2 separate regions of the Homo sapiens genome follow, and region 2 is linked to region 1. The links come from fine-mapping of genetic effects on gene expression. Tissue or cell type: whole blood. Region 1 holds a variant in brackets; the other region holds the start of a gene. All regions are shown on one strand. Distances are between the middles of the regions.

Evidence for each region. PIP is the estimated chance that this variant, and not a neighbour inherited with it, causes the effect.
Region 2: B3GALNT1 starts here. The variant in region 1 is fine-mapped to the expression of B3GALNT1 in whole blood (TOPMed, PIP above 0.99). The same link has a PIP of 0.9 or more in blood mononuclear cells.

What each region holds. Positions count from the first base shown.
Region 1 is chr3:161,133,724-161,139,196 of GRCh38, reverse strand. No RefSeq gene overlaps it. Among named protein-coding and RNA genes, the nearest start is that of B3GALNT1, 31 kb to the right of the region's middle. The variant A/G (reference allele first, on the strand shown) is at 2,862.
Region 2 is chr3:161,103,205-161,108,204 of GRCh38, reverse strand. B3GALNT1 (beta-1,3-N-acetylgalactosaminyltransferase 1 (Globoside blood group)) reads left to right here and starts at 2,856. Exons shown (of 5, transcript NM_003781.4): 1 at 2,856-2,970; 2 at 3,799-3,886; 3 at 4,688-4,778. It overlaps LOC124909453 (a long non-coding RNA gene), which reads right to left and starts at 3,524. Exons shown (of 2, transcript XR_007096147.1): 1 at 3,320-3,524; 2 at 1-1,634. RefSeq lists silencers at 2,952-3,041, 3,052-3,301.

The DNA.
Region 1 (5,473 bases):
AGTTTATGTCTTTGCAGGGACATGGATGAAACTGGAAACCATTATTCTCAGCAAAGTAACACAAGAAGAGAAAACCAAACACCACATGTTCTCACTCACAAGTGGGAGTTCAACAATGAGAACACATGGACACAGGGAGGGGAACATCACACACCAGGGCCTGTTGGGGGGTGGGGGTCTGGGGGAGGGATAGCATTAGGAGAGATACCTAATGTAAATGATGAGTTTATGGGTGCAGCTAACCAACATGGCACATGTATACCTATGTAACAAACCTGCATGTTGTACACATGTACCCCAGAACTTAAAGTATAATAAAAAAAAAAGTGTAAAAAATATCAAGTAAGTTCTAGTCAAGTTTTGCCACCAAATGAGATAGTTGCAAACTTATGAAAAAAATAACTTTCCAAAAGCATTGGGATTTCAGAATTATTGACAGGTAATAATGTGAACCAATTATAAGGAGACAAGTGAGGACTGACTACATACTTTGTTAATGAATCGACTTATAGAGAATTTATGCCTGATGACCTCTACCCTTTGGAAACTATTTTTGTATCCTTGATAACTGGGGACATACCTGCTTTCTCCCCTTTGGCCTCAGGGGGAGGCAGTGTTTTGCCCTTTACCATTGTTCCCCAAGCACGGGCAGGCCCATTTCTTAATTTCCTAGGCATATCTGAGACTGGCTGGCAGGAAGCTTAGCACAATGAGTTACTTCCAATTGCTGTTAAAAATGACTTTGCTCAGGGCCGGGTGCGGTGGCTCATGCCTGTAATCCCAGCACTTTGGGAGGCCGAGGCAGGCGGATCATCTGAGGTCGGGAGTTCGAGACCAGCCTGACCAACATGGAGAAACTCCACCTCTGCTAAAAATACAAAATTAGCTGGGCGTGGTGGTGCATGCGTGTAATCCCAGCTACTCAGGAAGGCTGAGGCAGGAGAATCGCTTGAACACGGGAGGCGGAGGTTGCCAGGGGCCGAGATCGCGCCATTGCACTCCAGCCTGGACAACAAGAGCGAAACTCTGTCTCAAAAAAAAAAAAAAAAAAAAAAAAAATGACTTCGCTCCGATGCACCACCCCCAGTTCTGTATTTGAGACCAACCTCGATTGCCTCCCTATTTGACTCTCATCTATCTTCATGCCTCAAGGTTCTTGCCAGACTCTCAATAAGGACCTAAACAAGAAAAAGGGTCTCCTTTCCCTCTGGTTTCTGCTCTTCCTCCATCTCAATTTTTGCACACCAGTAATTTATAACTACTACTCAGGTGGATGATTGTGGAATTATGTCTCCTTTTAAAAGATGCACCACCCTAACCCTCAGTGTTATGGTTACCCTGAGCTCCACCTCTCAGGACAATTACAAATAACGGCCGCCAAATCAATAACAACATTGTGAGTTATCCAATCTTAGTGGGCATAACCACAACCCATGCTGTGCTAAACTGGACTAAGTCCAGGTCACTTTTTTAAAGCCCCATAGGATGATCAGGCATGCCTATCTCTACAGTAGCTTTAGGGCTTCTGCTCCTGATTCTCTGTGATTTACTACATAAAGAACATATACACATCTCCAGCAATAAAAAACCAACCCAAAACAATAAAAATCCAAATATAGAAAATAATCCTTTCTCCTGTGGAAGATACAAAGCTGCAGGGACTTGGCTTTGCTGCTGACAGACATGGATTTACATTACAAAATAAAGCACTTGGCTTAGCTTCTCAACCTAAGCACCTTTACTCGGGTGACTTCACTTTCTCTCAGGAACAATTGTTTTTGGTCTCTAGAGGTAGGAGTGTCCCAAAAGACATATATCCAAGATAGACAGAAGTCTCTTCTTTCAGTGAAGATTTGTGGTTGAAAAATCTCTTTAAAAAGCGCTTCTCCCATTTCTGGGCTATTACATGTTCATAAAGATCAGCATACTATCTCAACATATTTTGTGCATGTGTGCATATGCACATGCATGTGAGTGTGTACTATATTGTAATTGTACATGGAAAATAAAATTCTAAGCCCGACAGCTGACTGAATGGATCCACTCTTGGCCAAGGGGATCCCAGAGAAAGCTGAAAAACTATTTCAGCCTACGATGGGAATGGGGGGTAGTACATGGCTCCCCTTGGAGCTTAGGCACAACTGACCAGCATTAACACAAAAATAGAGATCATAAGATGAATAAGACAAACTCTTTGTAGCAATAAGATACTGAACTCCAACTTGATACTGGTATAGCATCACATGACAGATAACAGGCCCTAAATATATGTTTTAATTTCTTTCTTCCTTTGTTACTTTATTTTTCATTTATTTATTTATTTTTTAGAGACAGTATCCTGCTCTTGTCACCCAGGCTGAAATGCAGTGGCATGATCATAGCACACTGAACCCTCAAAGTCCTGGGCTTAAGAGATCCTCCCACCTCAGCCTCCTGAGTAGTTGGACGGCATATGCCACCATGCTCAATTAATTTTTAAAAAATTTTTGTAGAAATAGGGGTCTCATTATGTTGCTCGGGTTGGTCTCAAACTCCTGGCCTCAAGCCATTCTCCTGCCTCAGCCTCCCAAAGTGCTAGGATTACAGGCAAGAGTCACTGTAACTGGCCCTAAATATATTTCTTTGACATATTGTGGCATGGCCTTGCAAAGAGGTCCTTGTAGGGGAAATTTGCATTTTTCTTTTTTCTACATCACAAGTCATTAGAAAGAAAATGTGTATTCTGTAGAGAATCTCCTTCCTTTGCTACTAGGTCTTTTCTGGAGAGTAAGGTCTCCAGAGAAGAGATGTTTATAATCTATTTTCTCTGAAGCCTGGAGGCTTCATCTTCATACAAGAACCTTGGCTTCCACAACTCCCCA[A/G]TCTAACTCAAGCATTTCTTTATTCTGACTTCAACTCAACAAGCAGAGCTTAACTCTTTCAGCCAATTGCCAATAACAAAATATTTGAATCCACCTATGACTTAGAAGACTCCTCCCTCAGCTTCAAGATGTCCTGCCTTTCCAGGCTGAACAAATATATACCTTCCATGTATTGATTTATGCCTTTGCTTGTAACTTCTGTCTCCCTAAAATATGTAAAGCCAAACTGTAACCCAAGCACCTCGGGCACATGTTCTCAGAAGCTTCTTAGGCTGTGTCACTGGTCATGTCCTTAACCTTGGCAAAATCTCTAAATTGATTGAGACCTGCCTCAAATAATACTATTTGGTTTATGTAATTAATAAGTAATCTGTGGGCCAGGCGCGGTGGCTCACACCTATAATCCCAGCATTTTGGGAGGCCCAGGAGGGTGGATTTCTTGAGCACAGGAGTTCAAGACAAGCCTGAGTAATATGGCAAAACCCCATCTCTACAAAAAATACAAAAATTAGCCAGGCATGATGGCAGGCACCTATAGTCCTAGCTACTCAGGAGGCTGAGGTGGGAGGATCACCTGAGCCTGGGAGGTTGCAGCTGTGGTGAGCCATGATTGTGCCACTGCACTCTAGCCTGGGTGACAGTGTGAGACCCTGTCTCAAAAAATAATTAAATAAAAATAAGTAATTTGTGTGTGAGATACAATACTGTGAATATCATACTGCCCAATAATCCTCAAAAACCTTTCACTCAATAAGTTTAGCATCTACAGGTGATCTTGCCTGAATTATTCCAATGGTGGTTGAAAAATGGTGATTTTTCTAATTCTATAATTTCTTCTGTATTTTGTAGGCTGCAGTCTTTGAAAGAAGAGAGCTCACTTCCACTTCCACCTTTATTTTGAGTGTCACTATGGATTCATGGGTTCTTTTCTTATTTCAAGGTAATATAATCCATCACCATTATTATTCTTTTTGATGTTCAGCTTGTCACAAATTTAGCCAGTGGGAACAGCTTCAAGTCAACTCTTGTGTTCCCATCAATTTTGAGCACTTTCTTACTTTTGTGCGTAAGATGTTTCCAGCTTACTGTGAACCTCCCCTTTCCCAGACTTGAAATTAGCTATTGGAATGTTATTGCTTCTATGCTTTTTTTGGGAGACAAAGCTAGAAATCCAAAATTTTAAAGAATCATGAGTTAATACTGATACCTCTAATTCCAATGTCAACCTACAAGAAGAAGCTGAGGCAAAGTAGAGAGTTTATTTGGGCCAAGTTTGAGGACTGCAACTCAGGAGCATAGATTTAAGTTGCCCTGTATACATACTCCAATTAGCAGCAGTAACTAATGAGTTTTTAACGTAAAAAAGAAGAATCAGTTTCTAATTTTTTTAACCAAGAATTTGCATTAAAATAACATAATTTATTAACTATCATTGTTCCTTGCATCACACCTCCCAGGAATATGAACATAACAGGTGGGTGAAGCAGCAAATTAGAAACAAAATGCCTTTAAAGAACTGCCCCAGGCATGAACGTAGGAAGGAAGCATGGCTGAAATGCCATACTTATGTCTCTCTGGGCCTGATAAATTTTGTATTCCTCACATAACTCAGACTGCTCTGAGCTATATATTTTTTTCTTACTCCCTTCTCCTACAGTGAGGAAAGAACCCTGGTTTCCCACAATTTTCTCTATCTATAATACATTCAAAATAACTTCAGAATTTCTTCATTGATATTATTATTAAAAAAAATCACTAAACATCACGGAAATGCAAATCAAAACCACAATGAGATATCACCTCACTCCAGTTAAAATGACTACTATCAAAAAGGCAAAAAATAACAAATGCTGGCACGGATGGAGAGAAATGGGAGCTTTTACACAATGTTGGTGGGAAGGCAAATTTAACCATTATGGAGAAAAGTATGGAGGTTCTTCAAAAAACTACAAATAGAACTACCCTATGATCCAGCAATCCCACTACTGGGTATTTAGCCAAAGGAAAGGAAATCAGTATGTCAAATAGATATCTGCCCTCGTGTTTATTGAAGCATTTTTCATAATAGCCAAGATATGTGATCAACCTACATGTCCATCAACAGATGAATGATAAAAGAAATGTGGTATATATACATCATGGAATACTAGTTAGCAATTTAAAATAATAAAATTCTGTCATTCATGGCAATATGGATGACCTTGAAGGACATTCTGATAAGTGAAGTAAGCTAGGCATAGAAAGATAAATACCGTGACCAGGTGTGGTGGCTCACGCCTGTTATCCTAGCACTTTGTGAGGCCGAGGTGGGTGGATCACATGAAGTCAGGAGTTCGAGACCAGCCTTGCCAATATGGTGAAACCCCACCTCTACTAAATGCAAAAATTAGCTGGGCATGCTGGCGGGCGCCTGCAATCCCAGCTACTCAGGAGGCTGAGGGAGGAGAATCGCTTGAACCCAGGAGGCAGAGGTTGCAGTGAGCCATGGTGACGCCATTGCACTCCAGCCTGGGCAACAAGAGCAAAACTCCATCTCAAAACAAACAAATAAAAAAAGAAGTAGATAGTAGAATAGTGGTTACTAGAGGCTGGGAAAGGGTTTGGAAGAGGTC
Region 2 (5,000 bases), 31 kb after region 1:
GAAGAGAATGAAAGATGTGGATAGTCAAGTAAGAAATATAACAAATCATCAATTAGAAATACACCCCAGCTGCTTCTAAGCATAATAAATTGTCAAAGCTTTCCATCAAGTGGAAGAAGACAGTCACAGTCAGATTTTGGAGAAGGCACATATTGAAAAATTCAACTGAACAATTAGTAGAAGCATTTCCTGTAGATTAGAAACCCTGCCCAGAACCACATCTGCCTTGAAACATATATAGCACATATTACGAAAGAACTGTTGTTACATTTCAATTTTCATCTGCAGACAAATTTAAGGTTAAAATGTAATATAGCCTTAAAGGTGACTGCTAGTTCAAACTTATCATTAGGCATATGGCTTCCTAACTCTTGATTATATGTTCGGAAAATTGCTAGGAAGGTTTCCATCTTATTGGTCAGATGGTATGTGAGTGTGACATATAACTCTTTGATGTGTGCTTTTCTTCTGGAATTTGTAGATAGTGCAGGATACTTAAATTTATTTTGCTTTTGTGAAGTAAGCAAATAACCTGACTTTAAACCTCAGTAAGGCTATTCAGCTAAATTCCATATATATCTATTGAAGATATATTACAGCAAGGCAGTGCGGTAGGGCCTGTCTCTTCCCTCAGGTTGCTGATAATCTCATGGCAGAGACATCTGTAAACAAGTTCTGAGGCAAGTGAGTGCTCACAGAATTATAAACAGGTTTGGGTAGTTTGGGGAGAGAAGTGAGTAAGAACAATAGCTGCCATCAGATATCATAAATTTGAAGTTTGATGATTTACTTTCAAGAATAAGGTTCCTGCCACTTAGTTTAGCTAGTTCTGGCCACATTATCTGCAGCTCCTTCCATCAAGAGGCAGAGACTATTTGCCTGCCCCTTGGATTTGGAGAGGCCTCACAATTTGCTTTGATTTGTAGAATTTGGCATATATGATCTTGTGTGACTCCCAAGTCTAGGCCTTAAGAAATTTTACAGCTTCTGCCTGCTCTCTTCTGGATGTTGCCCACAGACCAAAAACATAGCCTACTGCAGGATAAGAGGCCACATGGAGCCAACAGCAGACACATGAGTGAGGCCACCTTGGACTTTCAGCTTAGCTGATTCTCCAGTTCAGGGATCAGCAAACTACAGCCTGTAGGCCATAGCCTGCTTCTGTATGGCCCTTGAGCTATGAATAGCTTTGGGTTTTTAATAGTTTATAAAAATTAAATAAAAAAGAATATGTGACAGAGACAAAGTCTAAAATATTTACTATCTGATCCTGTTTTACAGAAAACTTGGCCAACCCCTGCTACAGCTGAATGTATCTATACGAGTGAGCCAAATCAAAACCAGAGAGGAACCACATAACCAACCTTCAGAATTATGAGAAATATTAAATTGACATTTTTGCAAGCAACTATATTTTGGGAGAGTTCGATCTGCAGCAATAGATGACTCAATCACAAGCTGATAAATGCTACACAAAGAAAAAGGAGACTGCTTCAAAGGAAATAATCTCATAAAGGTTTTGGGCCTTTTTGTCTCACTTACTTCATTTAGGAGAATTTCTTACCCCAATCTGTTGTCCATGGCTCTGCTTTGCATTCCAGGGAAGTTTTGGCAGCTATGAGCACATATACCTGCTGGTTACTCAAAGGACATTCAAAACATTTTAAAAATGAGTATTGAAATACAACTTTTCTAAAATTTTAAGAAACGGAATTTGTAAAATATAGTATTAATGCCCTAAAGCATTCTTCCAAATAAGAGGTCTATTTTTTCAGCATATTAATCTATCTGCAGTGAAACCTGTCTGGTTTTGTTATTAATGGACCTCCTTGACTTAGTGAGGTGAACTGTCAGCCCAGGTAGGGTGAAGAATGGCTGTGATAAAGGCGTGCAGCAGGGCAGCAATCACTTTACCCTCTGCAAAGGACACAGCTACCTGCCAAGGCTGGAACCAGGAAAACAATCTCAACCATAATTTAGATCTGATTATTATAATTTAGATCTGATTATTTATGCAGTGTCAACTAAGTCCTTGACTTACACTGCTACTATCTAAACTTACTTTTGTTGTATATCCATTTTGATCTCTATATTCACCCCTATTATTTTCAGAGAACCTTCAAACTATCCTAAGTAATTTTGCAGAAAAAGGCTATAAGGAAGAAGCAGTCAGGCCAAAGAGTCAGTAAACAAAAAGAAATGGTGGGCCACGTTTAGTCTTGATGCAAATGTGTGGGTTACAATCAGGGGTGGTGCTCATGGCTGAGCTTGGTAGTGGTTAAATACATGATCCAGACCCACTTGATTTTGAGGAAAGGACCAGTACAATCAATACTGCACATCTTGGTAAAAGGAGTTTGAGGAGATGGATCTGGGAGTTTAGGTCAGCTATGCTCAGGTGTACAAAAGCAACTCCCTGGGACTCCCATCCATACACAGGCCATTGAAACCTGACGTGTCTCTCTTACCCCCATTCCATTCCCCATCGATTCCGGAAGAAGAACTGGCATTTCTTCTGAGACAGCAAAGAACTCCTCCTAAGATTTCCTCTTTCCTAATTAGTTCTGTATGAAGTTTAACAAGAAAATCCCTCCAGGGCCGCCTCGAGGCCATGCACTCACGCAGTTTGGAAAGACGACCAGGGAAAAAGGATCTCAAACAAAAATTCTAGCTCGACGTCTGCCACTAAGTTGTCTAATTTTGGCCAGCATCAACTAAAGGCATACATAACACGGCCGTGCTCGGAATGCAAGGTGACCGCGAGGACCCAGAGGGCGCGCCATGCGAGCTCACAGGGCTGGGGGCCGCCTGGGCCCGCGCGTGCAGCCAGGGGCTTCCGGCCGCGGCCCTGGCGCGTGGTCTGCGCGCGCCCGGCCGTGCGTGCGGATGCGGGGAGGCTGCGTGTGTGCGCAGGGAGAGAACGCCGGCCACCTTCCCGCTTCCGAGCTGGGTGCGCGCCGAGCACAGGAGGTGAGTGAGAAGGGCGGCCCTGCAGGGTCTCCGAGGCGGTTGAGTCCTGCCACTGGGTGGAGGGTATAGCCACCGGACCCGCCTTTCCCGGAACGCGCCGTCCTCGGAAACGCCTAGACCCCGGCAGCTAGGCCGGGAGGCACCGCCCACTCCTCTAGAGCGGAGCGTGGCCCAGGTTGAGCCGCCGCACCGTGGGTCTCGGGTCTCGGTGACGAGCAGCTGCCCGCCTCCGGTGAGCGCGGGAGAAGGGGCCCAGTGGGGCAGTGGGCGACGCGGAGGGCCCAGGCCCAGGCCGCGGCCGCGCCGCATCCGCTGGTTGTCCACCTTGCCTTGCCCCAGGGTGCAATACCTGCCTTGCGTCGCCCGTGCCGCTCCAGCCACCGTCAAATCCGGGTAGCGACCCGGGGCGTTTGCAGCGGTGCCGAGGAAGAGGACGGGAACGGTGTTACGGTATTGGTGGGCCCCTAACAGGCCTGCGGCGAACGCTTTCCCGGAGCGCTAGGGAAGGGCCCCGGCGCAGGGATGTCGGAGGGATTGGGAAGGAATGTGAAACTAAGTGGGGAATGTGGAGAACGGGCGGAGAGAGAAGGAAATCCCACGGGGCTAGGGCTACAGGATTCCTACAGGCAGTGTTAAGGAACATACAGGGCGTTTTAAAAAGATTCCTAGAGGTGCAACGGAGTCTCACTTTTCCAAGCAGTAAGGAATGATGCCATCCTCAAGTACGGGTAGTCTTTGAATTCAGTATCCGTTCGCCTTCTTAATGTTGGATTTAGGAGGGAGATTTGCAGGGCTTTCATGATTTTGTTTCCTCTGCGTTTTGCACAGATTGCCTGCGTTTAGGAGGTGGCTGCGTTGTGGGAAAAGCTATCAAGGAAGAAATTGCCAAACCATGTCTTTTTTTCTGTTTTCAGAGGTAAGGAAAATTTGGGTTTGCAGTGTTCAACTGGGAACAAGTTTTTTAGCTTCTCCCAGGAGGCTTAAGCAAAAGAAGGGCGCTGAATTTGTGCTCTTAGTATGCATGTGTCGATGCCTGATAAAAGCACAAATTACTGAACGCGTATCAGTCTGGAGAACAGAATCGTTTATTACTAACAGATAAGAGACTATGACTTTTTTCCCCTCATAGACTAAAATGTTCGTTCAAATGAATGGCCATTGGATAACTCCAGACCTGAAAATAAACACTGTTGTCAAAACAGCATCCAGGCCGGGCGCGGTGGCTCACGCCAGTAATTCCAGCACTTTGGGAGGCCGAGGCGGGCAGATCACCTCAGGTCGGGAGTTCGAGATCGGCTTGGCCAACGTGGTGAAACCCCGTCTCTACTAAATATACAAAATTAGCTGGGTGTGGTGGCACACACCTGAAATCCCAGTTCCTCGGGGGGCTGAGGCAGGAGAATTGCTCGAACCCGGGAGGCAGAGGTTGCAGTGAGCCGAGATTGTGCCATTGCACTCCAGCCTGGGCAACAGAGTGAGACTCCATCTCCAAAACAAACAAAAAACAAAAAAACAGTGTCCAAGTATAATTTCAGATTAGAGCATGAGGTGATTTGAAAGCGAGAAGAGAGGATCAAGGCTTTTCCAAAAATGAAAAAAGTGTTGATATGTAATAAATGGCTCCAAAAACAACTTGCTAAGTATACAACATTGATTTTAGATGTCATAATTCCTAATGTTATGACTCATATATATTTTTTTCTGTTCTTCTGTTCAGTAGTTCACAACAGATCTGAGTGTTTTAATTAAGCATGGAATACAGAAAACAACAAAAAACTTAAGCTTTAATTTCATCTGGAATTCCACAGGTAAGTTCATCTACTTTTAACTTATAAATTATCCTAATTGGTTAAAAATGCCCATAATAATGCCCTTTACAAGGTTTTAAGTATCGTTGATGCAGCCACGAAGTTTGTTGTATATTCTAGTACGATTCTTTCATCAGAGGATTTGAAGAAATTCAAGAGTGAAGCTCTACTAAGCCATTTTGGATAATATATTTTTTTCTTTTTTCTTGCTTGAAAAATAGA